Linked DNA regions of Homo sapiens: region 1 is linked to region 2. Evidence: fine-mapped expression QTL. A gene starts in region 2. The other region holds a variant in brackets. All regions are shown on one strand. Distances are between the middles of the regions.

The links. PIP is the estimated chance that this variant, and not a neighbour inherited with it, causes the effect.
Region 1: its variant is the best candidate, but not a certain one, in a credible set for the expression of DNAJB14 in whole blood (INTERVAL, PIP 0.80).

What each region holds. Positions count from the first base shown.
Region 1 is chr4:99,918,432-99,930,762 of GRCh38, forward strand. DNAJB14 (DnaJ heat shock protein family (Hsp40) member B14) reads right to left here. Exons shown (of 8, transcript NM_001031723.4): 2 at 12,019-12,190; 3 at 4,609-4,754. Among named protein-coding and RNA genes, the nearest start is that of DNAJB14, 22 kb to the right of the region's middle. The variant AT/A (reference allele first, on the strand shown) is at 5,875.
Region 2 is chr4:99,940,228-99,952,558 of GRCh38, forward strand. It overlaps DNAJB14 (DnaJ heat shock protein family (Hsp40) member B14), which reads right to left and starts at 6,391. Exons shown (of 8, transcript NM_001031723.4): 1 at 6,212-6,391. The coding sequence starts at 6,344. H2AZ1 (H2A.Z variant histone 1) reads right to left here and starts at 10,048. Exons shown (of 5, transcript NM_002106.4): 1 at 9,941-10,048; 2 at 9,436-9,513; 3 at 9,046-9,159; 4 at 8,584-8,713; 5 at 7,861-8,296. The coding sequence starts at 9,943. The coding sequence ends at 8,235. It overlaps H2AZ1-DT (H2AZ1 divergent transcript), which reads left to right and starts at 10,267. Exons shown (of 4, transcript NR_125923.1): 1 at 10,267-10,453. RefSeq lists enhancers at 5,775-5,824, 8,702-9,307, 8,789-8,838, 9,879-9,968, 9,913-10,517 and silencers at 5,995-6,654, 9,459-9,548, 9,629-9,678, 10,339-10,388, 10,429-10,638.

The DNA of each region.
Region 1 (12,331 bases), 22 kb before region 2:
TTCCTGGTTCTTAGACTGACAAGTAATTTTCAACTGAAACTTCGTAATTTGGGTATTATCTTATGAGAGTCTGGATCTTATTTACATATTTTGTTTTTATTGTATTCCTCTGACTCCACTTTGGCAGAGAAGGGGGAATACCATCTCATTGTTCCTAAGTGGGAGTGGAAGTCCAGGGTTTTTCCCTTGGCCTCTGAAGACACTCAAGGGGAGGGGTCCCATTGGATAGATACGTAAGTTCCCTTATGGGAACATCAGGCCTCCACTTACGTCTCCCTGGCTAGGAGGAGAAGAGATACTTCATTACTGTTCTCCATTTAACTTCCCTGATACCATAAGGAAATGACTTTGTTACCTGTGGGTGGTGACTGAAGTCCTGACTGTGCATTAGGCTACCTATGATACTACCCTAGCAGGGAGAATGAGCACCCTTTTATTGCCAGGTGGAGGTGAAAGTCCACATGATCTCCACTGACATCATGAGGGAAGCCTTTCTTACTACCCAGCATAAATGAAAGTCTAAGCTATCTAGTTAACCTTCTCTGTTACCATCCCAGCAGGGAGCTTAGAGCATCTCATTACAGCATAGAGAGGGTGGTAGCATCTCATTACAGCACAGAGGGGGTGGTAGTATAGGCTCTCTACTCAGACTTTGCTAGTGTGGGTCAGGGTGGGGCCACAATTTTTCCTGTGGTGTTTGCAGTAGAGTGGCTACTGTTTTTCTGTCTTTCTAGGCTATCCCTTTCCTGATCATTTGGCTAGATAAGGCAGGCTTTTCTTGGGGCTTTTCTGTCTATATGTATTGGTGTTTTGGGGTTGCCTACTCCTCCAGCACCTAATCTGGGATATATATGGGGTAAAAAAATACCTAGGCCAGGCATGGTGGCTCACACTGGTAATCCCAGCACTTTGGGAGGCTGAGGTAGGTGGATCACGAGGTCAGGAGTTCAAGACCAGCCTGGCCAAGATGGTGAAACCCCATCTCTACTAAAAATACAAAATAATTAACTGGGATTGGTGGCAGGCGCCTGTAATCCCAGCTACTTGGAAGGCTGAGGCAGAGAATTGCTTGAACCCGAGAGGCAGAGGTTGCGGTGAGCTGAGACTGCGCCACTGCATTCCAGCCTGGGTGACAGAGCAAGACTCCATCTTAAAAAACAAACAAACAAACAAACAAACAAAAACCTAAGCAACTAACTAATATGTTGTTCTTTGAATCCTGAGGTCCCTACCTAGTTGGTCTGCCTTTTTTCTCTCCATCTTTCAGAGTCTTCCTATGTTTGTTTTCTTTATTTTATATATTAATGTTTGGGGTTTTCAGTTGTACTCATTGGGAGAAATGGGGAAAAGTATATCTGTCCTATCTTCCTGAAAGTGGAAGTCCTCATGGAATTTTAGATCACCCACCTCATTTTCGCTGCCAAGGTTTTGCCAACCCCTCTCTTTAACCATAGAAATCATGCTAACTCTTGAGAAAACTCTTAATTTTAACCTTAATTCTAACTATTATGAAGGCTTTCCCAATTACTCTGCTCACAATGAGTCTTCATCTTTCTAACTTTTCTTTGGACTTCTGTAGTCTGTTTTGGTATTTAAATATAGTTGGTCTTCTGTGAGATCCTGGGTAAATCTGAGTCTCAATTTTTTTATTTTTGAAATAAGAATGACACTGGTCTCTTAACTATTTGATGAGATTTTTAAATAAGCATTAAATGTAAAAATGGGAATGAAAAACTATGTTTGTTAAATGTGAGGCATTACTATATCGCAAAAGTTCTGTGTAAGGTTTATTTCCCCCTTATGAATTATAAATTATTTGGGGAAGAGGATATCTCAGATTCTCTCACTGTATTTCTCTACAAGAACTAGCCCAAATGGCAGAATTAAACTCTTTGTTCTTAGAGATATACTCTAGATGTTCATATTGAACTACCAGAACTAATACAAGCAACAACTCCCATTCCACTACTACTTGTCAAGCAAACACATAAACAACTAATCCATGCCCCATTATTACATTCATGTGTATGTCAACAGACACAGGTATTATTCAAATAGTCTCTGAAATACTTGGGAATCTTTGAAGATAATGTAGATGGGTATGTTTTAAAGACATCTACATCAGAAAAAAGGAAAGGGACTTATTTCATTAAAATATTTTTTTAAAATATGTTTACATGTATTTTGCAAGTCACTTTACATGTAAATAAAATATTCCCCTCTTGGGAAACATATAATCCTAACTGGAAGGACAAAATAGCTATATGAACATATGAGTTCATTTAGTCCATTCTCCTTGAGAGCAATCTTTTTTATTTTTAAAGCTTTACAAAACACACAAATGAAACATCTCTTCATTTAATTACTAATTACCTCTTCTTTTTCTATTCTTGAAGGAAATGAAAGCAAGTAGTTTCCATTTTCTGTAAAAAGTGTTTTAGTAATTACAGAGCAATCAATCCATACTTTAGCTTTTATAAAAAAGACAATAGTATTGTCTTTGCTCAGAGATAAATGGCTTAGTATTCCAAAAACAGACTGATTGGTTAAAAATAAAATAAGATGATACAGAAGATAATGAGAAGATCCTGTGTGCTAAATGAATGAAACCTGCCATTTCTGTGTGATGATGCCATCTGTAATATTTTCTAATTAACTACTGTTACTCGCCAAGCGTGTGTGGATTACAACTTGAGTTTTCTATGCAGTTTCCACTCAGTGAAAAATGGGCTCATCAGCCAATTCCCTATTCTGATCCTCTTTGGGACTAATAAACTGGCATTCTGATTTACAGGTAATCTCTTTGTGTATTGAACAATGTATCCTCTCCTCAGATATAAATCACTTCCCGGCATGTTGGTAAGTATTAAGTTTCTAGTTTTGCAAAGCAGAGCACTAAACTCTGAAATGTACCACATGAAAGTGTAACCAGTTTTGTAAAACCCCACTGAGTGTCTAGCGGGCTTCCTTAGGTGACATCTATGTTGCTAACCTATTCAAAACGCAACACAGGCTGCAGAAATATGTTACATACATTTAGTGTTATTCAAAGATGCTAACATGACTTCAATATAGAAGTGGAAGAAATAGTTTAATGTTCTTAGCATTAATAAAGAATTAACATTGAAATCACTTAGCAGATCACAAACATACAAATAACCCACTGCCAAAATATTTTAAACATTTTTAAAACTCAAAAAATTTTAAATTAAATTTGTGGAACTCATAAATCTAAACTCACTTTTAGCTTTTGGGGGAATATATGATAATAAATTAGCTATTTAAAGATTTCAGTTACTTTTTCTGGTAACTCTGTGACTGCATACATTAGGCTCAAGCTATAAAACAAATTAAACAAATATTTATTGTATTTGACAATTCCATCAGAAATTTCCCAACTTTCTGTACTATTGAATTATAAATTAACCTAAGTGCTATTATCTGTGTTTTTTTAAAATGAAAGCTTTATCTTTGTTTAATAAAGGTGTGTATTTGGAGGAAATAAAATAATGGCACTATTTTCTGGATACATTCTTCAGGTAATGAACTGACGGAAATGTAATTTGCAAGTTAGTGTTTTGGAGTAAAGCTTTTCCTGTACTTTCAACATGCCACTTTTACTTTAAGGAAACAAACTGAGACAGCTCTCGCTGTCACAGTGGTATTTTACTTTCACCAGCACCACTTTGGCAGTGGCTTTTATTGGAATATATTATTAATTCCCAAATGTATTTTCCTTGGCAACTTCCTTCAAGAAATAAAACTGTTTTGGAAACAATCTTAACGGTATTTTCATGAAGGACCAATTGCTTCTTCTACCTTTTTGGAAGATGTTTAAAATGAGTATCTACTTCCAGTTATTCTAAGACCCCACCATTGTACTGTAAACATTATACACTGGGTTTATGAATGCCAAATTCACAAGAATGAACAATCACAAATTTAGGCATTTAACTATGAATTAGAAATTAATTATTACAAATAAATTGTATTTAACAAAATATAAAACTACAAAATCACTTCTCTGACATTTATTAAATTGGCAAAAAATTTAAAGAATATTGGGATGGAAAATAAAAAAATAAATAGTAGGCAAGAGGAAAGATATTAATTTTTAAAAAGAAAAAAATAACATTAGCTAAAACTACATATATAAAATGAAAAAACTGGGCAAAGTTTAATAGAAATAAAAGAACACTGGGGAGCTATTTCTTAAATATCCAAATTCCACACAGTCTCTTGTACCTTAAAAACTCAAAAAAACTATATTTTGCTTTTAGTTCATTTAGAACCAGATGACAATACGCTAGAAGCTCATGCATAATCATCACCCTATTTGTTCCTGGTAAACAAGAAAGCATGCATATGTGCCTAGAAAAGTTACTTGAGACTGTATCAGAACTGGAATGTTGCTTTTGTGAAGCCAAACTGCATTTGTTTGCCTTCGGGTATAACCAGTTAATACTGAAGTTTTAAAGGATTTTCCAGACTCTTGCTTGTGCTGGTCTCTAAATGCACCAGTCCAAAAGCAGAACTTAATATTCTGAAACGCCGTAAAGTGAATTCTAAAGACAGCTTAGTAAAATTGCTTTAAAAGGTTTACTTTACTTTTAAAAGCATCTGTTGCTCCAGGTGCATGGTTTTTGTCTGGATGAAACTTCAAAGCAAGCTTTCTATAAGCTTTTTTCAAATCTTCATCACCAGCATCTTTCGTAACTCCAAGTACTTCATAGTAATTTTTACATTTGTTTATGCTGTGAACAAGAGAGTGTGTTATAATGTAAATTTCAAGGAAGACGGTCATGTAATATCTCTAATTTTTAATTTATTAGAATACTATAAAGAACTATCTGTGGACTCTTTCTCAAAATCTAATGAAGGCTTATCCCTTTAAGGATTAGTCTGCTTCATTCTCTTTTTCGACCACAGACCATTCCTCCAACCTCTTCCCGAATCTAAGAAGAGTAAACCATGAAAATGTCCTTAGTGTAATGTATCACAACTACAGAGAAGTAAACAAAGCCCATAATAATTGTGGATGAAAGTCAGAGCATATATTGTAACTAAAATGAGACAATAATAATAATTTTTTAGTACTTGTAAGTGGATAAATAAATTCCAAAACTCCTCAAAAGTATGTCACAGCTAAGAATGAACATGCATTACATTCCAAAAATTTTGTTCTTGCATAATGTAGATCTAACCAACTATCAAAGCAACAGTTTAGTACACGCAAAACAACAGCAGTATTCTATGGTTTAAATGTCAATATTTATTTATTTTTGATATAGATGGGGTCTTGTTATGTTGGGGCTGAGGCTAGTCTTGAAATTCGGGCCTCAAATGATCCTCCCATCTCAGCCTTCCAAAGTGCTGGGATTATAGGCATAAACCACTGCACCCGGCCATCCCCGTTATGCCAAAGATAATTTATCTGTATCACTCTCTGAAAAAGATAACATCTCATGATAAAATATAACACGTGACTCAAAAAATGTTATCCCTGATTTTCATTGTGATAAGCACATTTCTAAAGATTATATACATACAGTTTGTACCTTAAAGATTTAAGAGATTTAAGCCTGAAATCTTTAAAGTATATTAGGATTAGAAAATAAATACTCTGAATGGAACAGAGAACATTACGTACATGTGGATGCCAACCTTCTTCCACAACCTAGTAATTTACTTTCACAAAAGCCACAGTACATTTTCAAAATTTTTGGAGAGTACTTTGCAACTTTAGATGTGTTCCATGTGCAGGTGGCTTGATGACAGAGTTAGTGACAGGCAAAATGATCTAGGGTATAAGTGGACACTGGCAGCAAAAGAACTGCAAAGACTGACTCAAAGTTTTCAAAGAAAAGAGACAAG[AT/A]TTTTTTTTTTTTTTTTTTACTATTACACCTATTAGTTATCACAGTGCTTGGCACACAAAAGGATCTCAGTAAATATTTTTGAAGTAAATGAGCCTTAGCTTTCTTTATATAATGAAGGCATCTATCATTTGTTATATGAACTTGGGGGTAAAAAGGGAAAGTAATATAAAATTGTACAAATTTACAGAAATTAAAATTGGATTTTTCTACTTTAGATACTTAAAAACATTAACATACATCAATTTTATTCCAAAAACATGACATTTCCTTTATTTAGTCAATAATATTTATTGAATACTAACTATGCCCAGACAGTGTTCTAGGCATTTGACATATATCTGTAAACAAAAAAAGAGAATGATCCCACCTGTGTAGAGACTCATTCTCCTAGAAATGTTTAGAAGCTATGTGATAGAAAAAAAGGAAATGGGGGGCATTTATAAAATACCTACTGTGTGTTAGGTACAGGTCCACCATCCCATATCAATGTTCCAATATCCATAAAGCTCTGAAAAATCAAAGTTATTCTATAACTAATTTGACTGCATAAAAAACTGAATTCAACTGTAGATTTTGCCTCTAGGCAAAAATCTGACCGAAAAGATGTGAAGCTACTACAGAATCTTCATTTATCCCATTTAAGTGTGAATACCTGTATGTTTTGCTGTAGAAATGTTACTATTTGTTATGGACTGCTGCCCTAGACTCTAAGATGTATAATATAAAATACACTGTCATCCCTTGGTATCCACAGGGGATTAGTTCCAGGATCCTCCCTCCTTGAATACCAAAATCTACAGATGCTCAAATCCCTGATATAAAATGGTACAGTATTTACATACAACCTTTACACATCTTCCCATGTACTTTAAATAATCTCTAGGTTATAAATAGTACCTAAGACAATGTAAATGCTACGTAAATGGTTGTTACACTATATTGGTTGTTTAATTTGTATTATTTTTTATTGTTGTATTGTTATTTTTCACCAAATACTTTCAATTCAAAGTTGGTTAAATCCACAGATGCAGAACCCATAGATGTGGAGAGCCGACTATATTAGTACCTTTCTAAAATATGAAGAATTCTGAATTCCAAATTGCATTTGGTCACAAAGATTTCACATAAAGAATTGTAGAATTTTATTATACTGATTATTTTACACAAATTATCTCATTTACTCCTCATTTGGTAGATATTATTCCTATTTAACCAATAAGGAAACCAATCTTTGAATGGTTAAGTAAATTGCCTAAATTCACATAACCAAGTAACAGATGAGAATAAGGACTTATTTCTTCAACAAAAATTTACTAACCATTTACTTTCTGTTAGGCACAATTTCAGATGCTACAGTGGTGAATAAAACAGTCAAAATCACATTAAATTTACAATTGGGAGAAAAACAAGCAATAAACAAATATATAAGTAAAATATAATGTACATCATATGGTGATAAATATCTGGAGAAAAATAAAGAAGCTAATAGAAACAGAGAAAGGAAGGGCAGGCCTTCTATTTCAAATAAGTAATAAAGGAAGGCCTCACAGTTAAGAATTCAAATCTGTTTATCTGACTTGAAAATCTTGCTGTCTCAGAACTGGAATACAGAAAAAAGGATACCCTTCAGACTTCAAAGTGACCTATCATCTTCCTATTTCTTTCTTACCATCAGTATTGAAGCTGACTCTCTTACCTCCTAGATCTTTGCAATTGCTTTTGGTGCTGAGCACACCTTCTCTGCCTCTCTTCTTGGTTAGCTAGTTTCTACAACTTCTCCGGACCCTGACTTAGCTCTTCCTTTTCCTAAGAATCCAAATTCCTCAGGACTAGGTTTGCTGCCCCTCTTATATCCTCCCCACATCCTCTGAACTTAGCCTTATCCCAACAATTACCAAAGTGTACTACAGTTGCCTCTTTACTTGTCTGATAACACTTCTAGATCACAGATTCTTTGAAGGCAGGGATTATGTTTTGTTCACCATATATGTTGGATGGATGGACAAATGACTTTCAATTTGAGAGCAGAAATGGTGAGGATCTAAAAAGTCACGTTCAGATCAAATGTGATGAATGCTGTCATGAAAATGTAGTTAGTACTAAAAATCATTTGGAATAGAAGAGAAGCAGTTAATAGAAGTGAAACAGACTGTGAGACAAGGTGGAGAGGTACGAATATGGCAGACACTACCTGAATGCAAAAAATAAAAGGTAAATTAAACACTGAACAATCCTAAAGCCATTACTACTTGGTTTGAGTGTGTAGGATGTTTAATTATGTTCCAGATTAAGCCTCTAAATTGTCTTGTTTATAATTACTGAGCACAAAAGCCTGGTCAACTTAAAAAGACAGCTGGATACTGTAGACAAAGTAGGTGAAAATTTGCAGTGCTCTAGATAGGGTCATAAAGCTAAGAATTGCCACAGACAAACAAAAAAAAAAGGGGGGGCCAGACATGAAAAACAGTTATTTCACTAACTCTTAGCTGTATCCAGCTCCACCATATCTCCTCTGCACTAAATTTTTCATCATATATTAGAGAAGAAATTCTTGAGAAGCCAGAAGTTACAGTCATCATCACCAATGGACAGCCTGAAGACTATGTATTTGAAGTAATGCTCCAAATATACCCATTCACCTAAGTTTTCACACCTGAATGAGAAATTATCATTCATATAATTATTTTCATTCATACTGTTGTTCATCATGCTCCTTTTCATCAGCTACATGTGTTTGTCACACTTTTTACAATCTGCTGCTTTCTAAAAGAGTAAAACCTTCTCCTGCCTCACTGAAGAATTAAAAGAAATTAAAAAGGAGTAACCCATTACCTATCTTGGAAGGAAATAATGTACAACAAGGCCAAAAGGATCTGTGTGGAGCTCAACAATGGGAAAACTCTGCCTGGTCCAGACTTTATATCTTCTCTTATGTGCATGGAAGCATAGTTGGTGGGAGAGGAAGGTCATTTTTCGATTCTCTTTTTTTCATGTGTGCTATATAGCTAATTATTTAAATATACTCCAAATTTAACTAGTGTTTAAGGAAACATTTATTTATTCCTGAGAAAAAGAATTACTTATTTTATAAGTTTAGCGAAATGATTTCTTCTGAAAGAACGGAAGCTTAAATCAAATCTTAAATTCAAATCCCCATAATTAACAGTTGTACAGTGTTTCTAATTGATAAATACAATGATACTCCAGTTAATAATTTCACACTGATCTTGTAAAGTTTTAAAGTTTTTCAATGGTATGTTAAAAATTTCAAATAAGATCCATGACAACTTTGTCTCAATTATTTTTCAATACACTTCAACTCAAAAAAAACAAATCGCCAAGTTTAACAGAATATTAGTTTACAAAGTTACACACTTTCTCTTCAGTCTTACTGTAAGCTAGCTCTTACTTATGCAATGGATGCAGTATTATTGCAAGACTTCTCCCCATTGAGCCAAATTGTCACTGAGCAACTTGTTTGCATAATCGTGCTAACCAACAAGATAACATGGCTTTCTTCAGAAAAATCCCCTGTGTATAGGTAAAAGAAAAAACAAAAACATACATCATGTAAGTGTTTGCTGGTGATCTGTACCCTCACTAAAGCAACACTTATGAAGGCTAATATAAGAGAAAAGGTATATTCAGCTAAGAAACTCACATAAAGTACAGACTAAAGTATTTTGAAAACTTGGGGATTCTCTTAGAGACTGTTCCAATCATATTTAGTCCCCAAAAGAAAAAAAAATTACATTTAATTAAAAAGGTATAATGAGATTATTGACCAGAGGACCAATCTCTAATACAGGTATACTACTAAGCTATTTCTTCCACTCTTAAAGAATTCATGGTCCCAAATGTGGCTGGGCCTTAAAACTAAATCAGCAATACTTCATTCCCTTTGCTTTTCTCCTCTGCAAATATTCCATACTTTTACCACTCTCTTAAGCTTTCAACCTCATCTCTTTTCTTCTAACTCTCAGAAGACAGCCTCATCTCCAATTTGACAGAGAAAACAGAAAAATTCCTTCCACCTTTTATGTCTCCACCTGTATGTCTGTATGTCTCTGGCCACATACAGAGTGTATCTACACTCAGCATCATCTTTCATTCTTCCATTCTCAAGGTGTCTCCTTGCCTACAGCCAGTTCCTCTGGGCTTTGGAGAACCACACACACAACCACCCACATACACACAAAACCAACCCCACCCCACATATATATATAATCAATACCAGAACAAAGAGGCATCAATGCTCTTCCTTCCTTATTTCTACCACACCTTGGACTACTCTTCTTTTTCTTTCAAGGCTAGGGTAGAGGAAATGAAGAAACAGACTTTTTAAAATAACACCAGATTTAGGAGAGTCTTCTTTTTCAAAACTTTCAACCATAGTTTTTTGGTAAACTTTCAAATATATAGGTGATTCTATATTCTTAAATATATATATATAAAATACATTTAACTTTCTTTGAATCCTTCATTGAGAATATGTTCTCCCAACATAAATTAAATCCTATAAGCAAATACAATTTGTTTTAGGATGTGGTTTCCAGAAACGTGTTTCAAGCACACTGCTTACTAATAAACGTTTTTTACAAAATAAATTCAAAAGTAAGTCTCTTACTTATTCACTTCTTTCACTTATTCAGCTACCTCTGACACAGTACTATAAGTATAAAAATGGTTAGCAGCATTATTTATATTCTCAAAGTGCTTCACTACCATTCATACTAATCAAATACTCTACCATGGCTTTACCATGATTAAGGAATCCTTTTTTGTTTGTTTGTTTGTTTGTTTGAGAAGGTGTCTTGCTCTGTCGCCCAGGCTGGAGTGCAGTGGTGTGATCTTGGCTCACTGCAACCTCTGCCTCTTGAGTTCAAGTGATTCCTCAGCCTCAGCCTCCCGAGTAGCTGGGATTACAGGTGCCTATCACCACGCCCGGCTACTTTTTCTATTTTTAGTAGAAATGAGGTTTTGCCATGTTGGCCAGGCTGGTCTTGAACTCCTGACCTCAGGGGATCTGCCCGCCTTGGCCTCCCAAAGTGCTAGGATTACAGGCGTGAGCCACCACACTCAGTCAGAGAATCGTTTTTTCTCATTGTAATCACTCTCAAATAAAATGTTACAATCAAGCTTTAGCATTTAAATATATAGGGACAAATGCAAAATATAAATATATGGGTATTTGATTTTAAAATTAAGATATGGTAACAAATCACTTTCCTTAATAAATAAAACCTGTATCTCAAAATACACTTCAATTACAAATTATGGTAAATAAAAAGTTGAGAATGGGGTAAAAAGGTGAAAAAAGAAATAAAATTAAAAGAGAAACAGACAAGAAAGGACAAATGAGAAAGACTTAACCTAACTAATTTTAACTACTCTTCACTTGAGTTAGTTCACTATATTATGATTCACTCTCCATGAGAATTCTTGAATTAATCTCTGTTCAAAATCCTTAATCTTTAGTTTCCCTAGCAAAGTAATATCAGCACAACATCAATACAGCTTCCATAAGCTTTAGCAGGAAACAAAACAGACTTTTCTCTAGTGTTTCAAACTCAAAGTTTCATTTCATTTCCAGAAAACCTTTTACTTATAAAATTAAAGCCAGATACCCAAAACCCAGTGTATAACTTTTCAACTCTAACATTTCTGCGAAAGGACATTATAGTGTCTGCATATATATAAAGATAGCCCTTCAAAAAGAATATAAATAGAAAAAAATCCTTCACTAATATAAGTAGGAAATTGAAAATGTTGCTATTACACTCAATATTCCTCTCATGAAATTCTCCCATTTTCATCTATGTAAAATAAAACAATTCTTCATCCTCTTTTAATATTGCTACATAAACAACATATTGTGTGAAAAAGCTGCAATAATTTTTCTTAAAAAAATTATTTGGAAAAAGCTTTGTAACTTGAGGTTACTTTAAAAAATAGAATATTCTATAGAGTTGGTACTTTACAGACCAGTTTTATAAAGAATATGAAGCATAAGACACACCCAGAGTTCAATTCCTTGATGTCTATTCTTCTAATGTTATATTTCACTTTTTTCAGGTGTTATAACATCAAAAAGTACATTAATACCAATTATGATTGAGATGTAAACCATATTTATTCCTACCTGAGAACTCCATCTACTTGGTCTTTGGTATAGCCTTTTCCACCTTCACCACTACCAGATGTGCTGTCCTTTGTGCAATTAGGCTTGCTTTGATCGCCACTACCTGATGGTTTTCGGCAATGAGGGCTATTTCCAGCCGTGCTTCCATTTTTCATAATTATTTCCAATAGTGCTGTAGAAAGATAAAGTACACTATGCCTGTTTACATCAACGTACATACACAAGATCCTGAGAAGAAAGTTTTAAAGCAGACAAATTATGAAGTGTGTTCTCCAAAAAGATTCACCATAGGATCTTTTTAATTAGCACGCAT
Region 2 (12,331 bases):
TTTTTCTTTTTCACAAAATACAAATAGCTTTTATTTGTGTGATTATACAAACATGTATGTTCAGCTCATTAAAAAACATAACAGGCCAGGCGTGGTGGCTCATGCTTGTAATCCCAGCACTTTGGGAGGCTGAGGCAGGTGGATCACTTGAGGTCAGGAGTTTGAAACCAGCCTGGTCAACATGGTGAAACCCCGTCTCTACTAAAAACACAAAAATAAGCTGGTGTCGTGACACACGCCTGTAGTCCTAGCTACTCGGAGGCTGAGGCAAGATAATCGCTTGAACCCAGGAGGCGGAGGTTGCGGTGAGCTGAGATTGTGCCACTGCACTCCAGCCTGGGCGACAGAACGAGACACTGTCTCAAAAATAAATAAATAAATAAAATAACAAAGTAAAAATCACTTATAAATCCCCTTCCAACCCTCCCCCAAATCCCCCCCAAAAAATCACTATAGCCTTTTGGTTACTCTAGTTAGCTAGCTGTCTAGCTTTTTAGACATTATTAAATTAAAAAAATATAATAATCTACCTGTTTTTAGCTTAATTTTCTTCAATTGTTGACATATTAGAGATATCACCTTATAGCAATAAACACAGGTCCATGTCATCATTTTTAATAGGTGCATAATTTATGAATGCAATGAATTTAATCAGTTTCCACTAATGGACATTTATACGCTTTCCAAATTTTTGCTACAGAGACAATCCCTATATATATATATATTTTTTTTTTGGAACACTTGGGCTGATTATAGAAAAGCTTCATTTGTGAATATATTAATATAGAAGGCCTTATGGCTATAATATTTTCATTTAGTTATTTATTTAACAAATTATCTTTATTGAAGAGAGTAAAATTAAATAAACAGCTATCATTCCAGAAAATCCAGGCCCATAGATGTCACAAATATATGTAAAATACTGTTAGGCATCATGGGAGTAAAAAAGATAATTAAGATTAAAATAGTTCCTGACCGCTAAGGTATTTTAAATGTAGGAGAGAGACAGCTATATACACAGGCAATGTAAGGGATGAAGTCAGCAAGGCAGAAGAACTAAATGTTAACTAAGCATGGAATGAGTAGTTGAATCCAAATTAATATTACTCCTAATTTAAAGCAATTATCTTATGCTCAAATAATTACTTTAACAAATGACAGAAGAGACAAACATACTATCAACTCCAAGGTACTATTCAAGTTTTTTCCTATAGAAATAATACATGACATGCTTACAGCACTTAAGATAATAAAATATCCTCACGATAAGCCTGCGAAGATTACAAATGAGAAAGCTGAGGCTCAGGAAAGGAAGAGGTAATGACAGAAATGGAATTATTGTGTCATATACCAGATAGATACTTCATGTTTCCCCTAGAAGGTAAGCTCCATGAGGACAAGGACTCTGTCTTACTATCCACTGAATTCCCAGTTCTTAGAATATTGTCTGGGACAGAAAAATGTATATTCAGTAAAAATTTGTTGAATAAATCAAACTCCATTTTATAGATGAGGAAATTGAGGTTCGGAAAGATTAAGCTATATATCCAAGGTCACATCATTATTAAATTAAGATTCAAACCCTGAATCAGTATTCTTTCTTCAACTGTAATATCTGAAATAATTTGGCTACTAGCTGAAATTTGGAAATCATTTTTGTAACACTTCAGTTGGTGCTATAGAAATAATTGTTTTGAATGTATAATTTGTACTTGTCACTAAATTTCAATTAAGTCAGAAACACAAAAGACTGAAATTATCTTAAAAAGAATATGTTGGATAATACTCCAGATGTATAATGACAATTTTAAAAGCTACTTTTTAAACCATTTTAAGTAAGACAAAAAGAGACAGAACTTTGTATTTTTTATTAGATATAAATTTTAAAATAATGTAGCAAAAAATTAGGAAGAAAAAGGACTGTTTAAATTGCTATTGTGCAGATAGATGCTGCAAATTATATACTATTCAATACATAATTTGGATTATCATACTTATCCGTTCATTACAGTAGATGAAGAATGGCCTTTTTTGAAGCTGTAAGCCACCAATTGATTCAAATTACTACAGTGTTCCTGAAAACAATAAAAATGCTTTTCTCTTAAAAAAAAAAATCTACAAACTATTTCCCAATTATTATGAAATTGCAATGCAAAGCATTAAAACAGATTGTACCCCTCTCTGAAAATCCAGAACATATCAATAACTCAATAAATGTACAGTTTATTCAGAAACTACAGTTACTGAGTTCTGCTTACTGACATTTTTTCTAGAATATTTATATTTTCTATGTGGTAGCTATTCATATATATCAATACTTTAAAATATTTGAAAGTTGTACAACTGAATTCACTTAGAAGTCCACTGCAATAAGTAAACTGTAAAATAATATTCTCAACTAAAAACATGGAAAGAAACAATATCCTAGATCCATTTGGGGATTAAGTTTTTTGTCAAGAAAAACTCTTGCCAATTTCTGAAAGTGTCTTATGTATCAGACTTCCTACCTGGCAAAAATAAAATTTTAAGAGGACAAAAATCCTGGAATCTAGCAGGAATTTAGTCTCATGTTTTACCATGTAAGAATAATGGAAATCAAAATGTGATCTTTTCTTTTGCCTCTCTTAGTTTAAGCATATCCAGACGAACATTCAGTCAACTTTCTGAGTTATAAGAATTTGGTGGTGGACTAGTATAAGTGAAATTCAGGGCTAAAATTTTAAAATCTAATTGTAACCAATAGCTTCGACTTCCTTCTATATGAAATATTTTATCAGGATCTCACACAAATGTCCTAGATCTTTCTCTCTCCTGAATTCTTAAATTGTACCAATAAACATCTTCTAGAATGTTCTATATAAAATACACTTCTCTGAGTACTGGCATATAACTTTATTTCAGCTCACATAAATCCTGTGATGACATCTTCACTTTACATATAACTAAAGAAGGCTCAGAGGAGTTAAGTAATTTGTCACTGGTGAAAAAGGAGTCAGAGAAAACATCTGCATCTGAACTAAGGTTTTTGGACTACACAGTTATCCCCTATCACTTTATTTGGTAATCACATACTGCCTTACATTTGTACTACCAACTTTCACCCTTACATTTCTTAATTTTTCCAACATTCATGTCCTTAAGAGCAACAAACTGTGTTGTGCTTTGGTATCTTATAATATCTTTTAGGAGATTTATTCAAATTGTTTGCATGACAGAAGCATGATAGTGTGTACATTTGGGTGGGTTTTAAGAATTCTCAGAGCTTCACACTTGTAAAATGGGGATGACACCAAAATTAATTGAGTGCTTACTGTTAAATGCTTTACCTGTATTAACCCATTTAATCCTCACAACAGCACTATGAGATCAGTACATTGTCTCCATTTTACAGACGAAAAAGCTAAAGGCTAGAGAGGTTCTCTACCCTGCTCAAAAATAAGGTTACAAGCTAGTAGGTGGAGTCAGACTTCAAAAGCCAAGTTATTCTGTCTAGACTGCCTACTCACTTAATGTTAAAACTGTCCCTCTAGGACTAGATAATGACTAAATGAAATCATATTCAACAGTAGGGGAGGATTCAAAAATAATTAACTCCTGGCAATGATTTCTTGAATATGACAGCAAAAGCACAAAAAAACAAAGCAAAAATAGAAAAATGGCACTACAACAAACTTAAAAACTTATGTGCATCAAATAGCACCATCAACAAAGTGATGAAAAGGCAACATATAAATAGGAGAAAACATCTGCAAATCACATATCTGATAAGGGGTTAATATCCAGAATAAATAAGGAACTCCTACAACTCAACAAAAAAAAAACAAGTAATGTGATTTAAAAATGGGCAAAGGACTTGAACAGACATTTTCTCCAAAAATGGGATATTATAAAACTAGCCAATAAGCATATGAAAAGATGCTCAACATCACTAATCATCAGAGAAATGCAAATCAAAGCCACAATGAGATATCACCTCCCACTCAAGGATGGGTACTATCAAAACCAACAAAAACAGAAAATAGGTGTTGGCAAGGATGGTGAGAAACTGAAACCCTATGTACTGTTCGTGGGAAAGTAAAATGGTGCAGGCGCTACAGAAACTGTATTGTGGTTCCTCAAAAATTAAAAATAGAATTACTGTATGATCCTACAATCCCACTTCTTGGTATCCAAAATAATTGAAAGCAGGCTCTTTGCATATCCTTGTTCATAGCAGCATTATTCATAATAGCCAAGAGGTGAAAGGAACCCAAATGTCCATAGACAGATGAATGGATTAACAAAATGTGGTGTATATATACAATGGAATATTATTCAGTTTTTTTACTGTAGCTTTTTTTTGGTCTTTTTTTTTTTGTTTTTTTGAGATGGAGTCTCGCTGTGTCGCCCAGGCTGGAGTGCAGTGTTGCCATCTCGACTCACTGTAACCTCCATCTCCCGAGTTCAAGCGATTCTCCTGCCTCAGCATCCCCTAGTAGCTGGGATTACAGGCATGCACCACCACGCCTGGCTAATTTTTTTGTATTTTTAGTAGAGATGGCGTTTCATCATGTTGGCCAGGCTGGTCTCGAACTCCTCACCTCAAATGATCCGCCCGCCTCGGCCTCCCAAAGTGCTGGGATAACAGGCGTGAGCCACCGCGCCCAGCCTAATCAGTATTTTTTTAAAGAGGAATTCTTCACGTTACAACATAAATGAAACTTGGGAACATTATGCTAAGTGAAGTAAGACAGTCACAAAAAGATACTGCATGAATCTACCTATCTGAGGTAACTAAAGTAGTTAAATTCACAGAAACACAAAGTAGAATGGTAGTTGCCAGGGTCTTAGGAGACGGGGCGGTAGGGAGCTGTCTGATTAGTACACAGTTGTGTTGTAAGATGAAAAAGTTCTGAAGAGTCCTTGCACAACAATGTCAATATACTTCACTAATGGACTGCACACTTAAAAATAGTTAAGACCGTAAATTTGGCAGGTTTTTAAACCACAACTTAAAAAATTATTAACTCTTTTCTTTCATTTTATTTTCCTGTCCTCATGGGTATAGTGTTAGAAGGCAATGTAATGGAAAGGATAGAGAGAAAAGCAAAGAGCACAGGGCTTCAACGACGTAGAGAAAAAAATTTAAGAGACAACAAAACAAGTGGCCCCATATTTTCATTAATAATTTTCTACAATTAATTGAATCTATCGATAACTTTCTTCTTAACCTGGAAATACTAATGGCAAGGCAACAGTGTAGCGGTTAAAGGCCTTTTCGAGTCTGAAAGTTCAGCTACTATTCTGACTTTGCTACTAATTGTTGTGTGACCTTGGGTAAGATACTTTCATTCATTCGCTAATTCATTCATTAATTATCAGAAAGTCTGTTTCCACGTGGGTAAACCTGGTCAAATGAATCCTGCACCTCTACACAGAATTGTTCTGAGGAATAAATGAAATAATCCATGCAAAATGTTGGGCACAACTATTGGCACTTTGTGCTCAATAAATGTTGGCTATTATTACTCCGAAGCCTATCGAGTAGGAAAATAAATAAGCTGACTTCAACTAAAGGAAACCCAGTACCATATTCCTCAGAGATTTGGTTCGTCGATAATCATGGTGTTATCAAATCAGATACTCTTCAGCAATCATTACTGACTCTTGACCATTCTTGCCGAAAGTGTGCTCTTCTCTTTTAAAGGAACTCTCTCCCAGGGAAAAGCAATGTCATCTCAGGTATTCGATGTTTGCTTTGGGAACAGTTTTCTACAGATCTCAGAAACATGGAATCTGAGATTAGCCACTAGAGTACACCATTCCTCTCACTTCGATAGGGGCCTAGGCCTTATGTAGGACTGAGAATGGGGAGGGAGGGGGCCACATAAACAACACAGATACAAATAAAGCCTCACTGTGGTAAGACGGGACCAGACAAGTCTCCTCCAGGGAGAATGAAACCCGGACATTTAGGACAGCGGAACGCGGAGCCGGCGGGCAGGCGGGTGCAGAGGAACCTCGCGCAGCATTCCCCGAGCCCCAGCCCGGAGCCGGGGCTGGGGCCAGGGCGGGGGTGTGTCGGGATGCTCCCCACCGGGCCTGGGGCTGGGGCTGGCTCAGACAGGCCGGGGGCCCCGCAGGCCTCCAGGAGGGGCCGAGGTGGGGGCAGGGGCGGGCTACGCGGTGGTCTGGGGATTGGGCAGGAAGAGAAGGGACGCTGAGGTCTCACCGCGGGCCGAGGGCAGTGGGTAGAGCTTCTCGGCCTTCTGCAGGAAGCGCTGGGCCTTCTCGCGGTTGCCGGCGTTCAGGGCCTCCCGGGCGATCTCGACACATTTCTCAGCCTCATCCCTGTTCCCCTCCATAGCTTGCTCCTTCTTCCGTTTCCTCCGGCAGCGCAGCTAAGAAGGGCGGAAGCCGCCGCCGCGGAGGAGGCGAGGCGGGACCGGCTGGGGGCGTGCGGCGGCAGCGGGGAGGAGCGCAGGGGACCGCGGCAGCGGCTGCGACGGCCCGGGCGGACGGGCGGGCCTCGCAGCTCCGCCTCCTCACGGCGGCCTCCCCGCCCCCCGCGGGCCCCTAGGGCGCGATCCGCATCCGTCCCGGCCCAGGACCAACCTCCTGGGCCGGGGCGTCCGAGCTGACTCGGTGGTCCGCGCACGGCGCCAGCAGGCTCGAAGCGGACCTGCCCGGGAGGCGGACGATAGCAGCCGGGCTGCCCATCGCGGGGAGGGGTTCCGCCCGGGACCCGATTGCCGGCATTGGTAGCGCCGTGCCCTGTGACCTCCAGGCGAGGCCCTCGCAGCTCAGGCCAGGAGGACAGGGTCCGGGAAGGGGACACTCGTTTTCAGTAAAATTGCCAGGACTTGGAGGTTCCGCCTCTGGGCCCCTCAAGCGAGGGAGGATGCGGTCAGGTGAGGACCAAGGTGTCAGTCCAGTCTCAGCACTTCCGGGACACGTTAGAGCGTCGTTTGAACCTAATCTTAGGGCTTGTATGGCAGCCTTATTTCAGCTACATTTTTTCTGACCCGGATGTCTGGCTATCCAAAGTACAAAGCAGTTTAATTTGTAGCTTGCAACGAGTGGTGCAGATCGACCTTAATCCTGTGTAGCCAAAACAAGGCAGGAATCAGCCCCTCAGGGGCTGCCCTAACGAAAGCAAACTTTTGATTTCACCTTTTCCGTCCCATTTGGATAACATTACCACTTGGAAGTACCGTGTCTTGTTAGTCTTCGCGGTGGGGGTGGGGGGAATGTTTGCTATGTGCAAATTTTTTAAAAAAAAACATGACAAACTGTCAAAATGACCTGCTCAACCCAACCACAAGGTAACAATTTTTACATAATGCTGTGAGCCAAGCTGTTAATTCTGCTAACTACCATAACTCGGTACTTTCAAATAAGAAACCCTGCTTCTCTTCGATAAAATGGAGATAGTATATCCCCAATGATGTTACTGAGTACTTAACAACTTCAGACTTCAAAGCAGGGCCTGGCACGTAGCACTATTATCTTTAAAGTTTAAATTCGGAGTTCATTCTGTGGATATACAGGACATTCCTACCTATTCTCTCCCTCCCCAAGTCCACCATGCTAACAGCATACTAGTGCAGTGCTGTCACACAGCAAGCGAAGCCAATGTACAAACTGAAATGGTCACACTTAGCCTAAGAAACTGACAATCCCACTCCAGCTCCTGCCAACTTTTTAAATTAAAACTTTAGTAGCTCATATAACATTAAAAAAATATACTTGGGCTATCTCACTTTGTTGATCTACAGATTTGACAGTTCAGTCACAAAGAAATGTGCTTAGTTATTGCTGCTAGATGAGATACTCAAAACAAGTTCCTATTACAACCAAGCAAATTTAATACACAACTAGTTTGGGATATGACCTTTATTGAACTTATCCACCAGAGTGGAAATAATGTCTGTACAAAACCAAATGTTTGTTACTATAACTTCTGCATCACAATTAAAATCCAAACAGTTTTTTAAAAACAGTCAACTCAATCAAAACCCACTACTTCAGAATCAATAGCTTCTTTGAAGCCACAGTAACACTTAAATATGGTTAAGACTCGAATGCAGAAATTTGGTTGGTTGGAAAGCTAATTAAACTTCCAACTTGCTCAAATAGAATTACAAAAAGGCAAAATTGTGTTTTTCACAGAGATACAGTCCACTGGAATCACCAACACTGGACAGCTGTTAGAGTATTTAGAGTCCTGAGATAACAAGGAATCCAGGCATCCTTTAGACAGTCTTCTGTTGTCCTTTCTTCCCAATCAGAGATTTGTGGATGTGTGGAATGACACCTAGGAGAGTGACAGGAATTAATTCTACTTAAGATTTTTTAAAAAATCACAGTATTTGAAACCAAGAAAGTGTATACTGTTCAACTTGAAAGGTATCTTTAAAAACATGCAGCTCAAGTATGAAGTAAAAATTCATTGAGTTATACATATAAATCAAATTTCATGATACAACCATACTTCCATCATTGAAAATATACTTAAATTTCCTCTCCTGGAAAAACTAATTAAAAGCAGCAAAAAATTCCTTCCTCTGAAGAAATTTTTTAAAATGTTAGAAGTTAACATACCACCACCAGCAATTGTAGCCTTGATGAGAGAATCCAATTCTTCATCTCCACGAATAGCAAGTTGCAAGTGACGAGGGGTAATACGCTTTACCTTTAAGTCTTTTGATGCATTTCCTGCCAGTTCAAGTACCTAAAAGGCAGAATCTGTCAGTTGCCTTCCAACTTTCCTTTGGCCAAGATTCAGAGAACAGAATAAAACCCTCACAAACGCAGATCTACCAACTGGAATCGTTCCTCACTATCTGACTGGCAAGATATACAGGGGGCACGCAATTTTAATTCCAAGAGCAGAGAACTCAAGCTCAGTAGGATCCTTGTTGAACACCAGCTCCCTCTAGCGTTCTCTTAGGCCTCTCGCCGCGTTCAGGGCCTGGGAGTTTTCTTGCATCACTTTCCTCCTTCCCTCTTGCCGCCTCCCCGCCCCCCAAACCTTCTCCGGATTATAGGCGTTCACCCATTTACCTCTGCGGTGAGGTACTCCAGGATGGCTGCGCTGTACACAGCGGCAGTCGCGCCCACACGTCCATGACTGGTCGTCCTAGATTTTAGGTGTCGATGAATACGGCCCACTGGGAACTTAAATTTTAAGCATACACAAACATAAATGCACAAAAATGAGAACTAGAGATGGGGAAATTATATGCGCGCCAAAGCAAGGGGCACGGGCGCAGCAACGCGTCCCGACATCGAAACACGTGATTCCTCCCCCCCATATTTATCGTATGGGCAGCCCAAGTCGCGACACCGCATCACCCACGCATACACAAAACGCCCATCGAGAGCGATGAATAACAAAAAAGGAAATGCAAAGAAAAACATCATGACTCCCAGACTGCACGAACAACTACTGACCTGCAAGCCGGCTCTCTGCGAGCGGGAAACCGCCTTTGTCTTGGCCTTTCCGGAGTCCTTTCCAGCCTTACCGCCAGCCTGCGGCGCGCACACGCCCGCGAGCGGAGGAGGAACGGAGAATATAGAATTACCAAGGCGGCGCGCCCATCCCCCACCGCGGCGCGTCCCGCCGCGAGCGCGTCCCCGCACCCTGCCGGGGTCTCCGGCCCGCGGCGCGCCGCAGGGGCGACCCCGCCCGTTCGCCCCCCGCCGCGCGCTCGCCACGGCCGCGCGCCTCCGCCCGCCGGCCCCCAGCGGCGCTGCGCGCGCCACCCAACCGTCGCCGCCCGCCGCGAGATCCGAGGCTGCTCCGCTAGCAGCCGACAAAACACCTCCCCCCACTCTTCTAAATCCTGTCTCCGCGCGTTCCCAACCGTCGCCACTTCACCCCCATCCCTCTGTGTAACGGGTTTTTCTCTCGCCGGCAAAAACCCGCGGAGTCATCGAGCGTCTCTGCGAAGTTTACCATTTCGAATTCCGCTGAAGCTCAAGCAAGCAAGGCAGAGAAAAGGCTAATCGGACCCACGGTGAGATCCCACCACCTACTCCTTCGTCGCACCGCGATTCAAACTGCGCTGTCTCCCGCCTTCCCTGCTCCCTTTATACTGCAGAATGTTCCCTCATCCGGGAACTCGGATTGCTCATCCCACCAATGGCTGCCACCCGCCCTCGGGACGCGTCCTTGAGACTTCAGCCAATGAGCAAGCGAAGAAAAGGGTGGAGGGGCGGGCGCTTCTAATCTCAAGCCGCGATTGGGGCGTGGGGGGAGAGGCGGGGGAAGGCGGAGGGATGGGAACGGGGGAGAAGAAGGGCACCGCGGCGGGAGGGAAGAAACAGAGCGAGCTACGCTGCAGGAGCGCAGTTACCAGCCGGCTGCGATCACGTGCCTGGGAGGAGGAGCTGAGACCTCAGGGGAGGGGCGCGCGGTAGCGTCCCGGGTCCCCTAGCAGGGCTCTAGAGACCACGTGAAGTCTCCTCGGTATGTAGCACGCCGCCCCCACCACTCCCAGCCCCATTCCCAGCGCCTCTCGGGCGGAGACCTGCGACCCGCAGCCGCTTTCCGGGGCCCCGGACACCCCTTCCCTACCCTCTCAATCCCTGGCGGCTCCTCCCGTCTGACAGGTGGCGCGAACGCGTCCAGTGAGAGGAGTCTGAGGTTTGCCCTGACGCCTTCCACAGCCTTAGTAGAGATTCCGTGTTTCTTCCGTCTAGGCGAGTCCCCAGCCACCAACAGATCACGACCCGCTGCTCCCACTTTATTTTCAGCCGGGTCTTCCACCTCTCCCTCACTACTTATGAAATCCTCCACGGAATAGTTCTGTGACAGCAAACGGTGAAGCCAAGTCACCTCACTGGTCACGAAACCCTTTTTGTCTATACTTAGGGAGCTTCTGGCGAGGCAGTATTCTTTAATCAAATCATAAACCATATTTTTTGGAGACTACACATCAATGGGTTGTACCTGTAGCCTGGTGTGTAAAGCTCATTTAGTGAAACCTCAGAGCTATTATGTGTCAACTTTTCTACAGTAAGTATTTTGCCACATGACAAATGTTCGGCAAATGTCGATGGAGTAACTCTGACATGATTTTCAGGCAGTTAGAGGGTCCATGCAATGCAATCAGTTGCAAATGATGAGGTTAAAGTAATGGTACTGTACACACAGTACTATCCTTCCAACTAGTAGGTTATTAACACCTATGTACATCTCCAGCTGCTTGGGGACAGTAGTGTCTCAATCTCATTTGCAGTGTTTTAGTGTATTACATTTTTTAACATAATTGAATAGTTTCAATGTGACGAACATTTTGAAACATATACTCTATGCTGGGCATGGTGGCTCACACCTGTAATCCCAGCACTTTGGGAGGCCGAAGCGGGCAGATTACGAGGTCAGGAGTTCAAGACCAGCCTGGCCAACATGGTGACACCCCATCTCTACTAAAAATACAAAAATTAGCCAGGCATGGTGGCGCCCGCCTGTAATCCCAGCTACTCTGGAGGCTGAGGCAGGAGAATTGCTTGAACCCGGGAGGCGGCGGTTGTGGTGAGTCAAGATTGCGCCACTGCACTCAGCCTGGGGAACAGAGCGAGACTTTCTCAACAACAACAACAACAAACATATACTCTGAAGTACTTTAGATTGGGTTTCAATTTGAAAGATTTTATCGAATTAGAGGACCTCCCAATTTCTGTGAGATAAATTCTAGAGAAGAGCTTCCCAACAATTTTGACATTGAGGTTTATTATTTCTTGGAACCAAGGAACTCTTATGATGTCGTCGATAGCAAGACTTCAGCCGTTTTCCTACTGATAATATAATAATGATATATTAAGCTATGAAACCTGATAGTTAACGATGGCTCCAGGGAAGCTTTGTGATATATAAAAAACCAACATTAATGCCATCTCTAGTTTAGATAATACTCTGCCAGCTCTTTGCTATGAAGCCCCATAAAGGGAATTTACTGTTGCCTCGCTGAATAGTGGTTAGGAGGATGAACTCAGAAGCAAGTACAGATGGATTCTGTTCTGCCTCCTCCTCACTGTGTCATCTTAGTTACTAATCTTTCTGAGCTTCGAGTTCCTATTCTGTGAAAAGATAGTATCATCTATTTTCACATGGTTGAAAGATTAAGGAAAAAGGTATGCAATGTACATAGTAGCATGTGTTTGGCACGTAGTTAGCCCTCAGTAAATAACTGCTATTATTTTCTACATTGGATGCTGGAGAGGGATGAAATAAAGTATCTTTTATTTCTAAATCTTTTTTGCTATTTGGTTTATTTTCTTTCTTCGATTTGGAAGCAGCAAGCTTGAAACCTGCCCAAAGTATACACAACCAAGTCTTCCAACA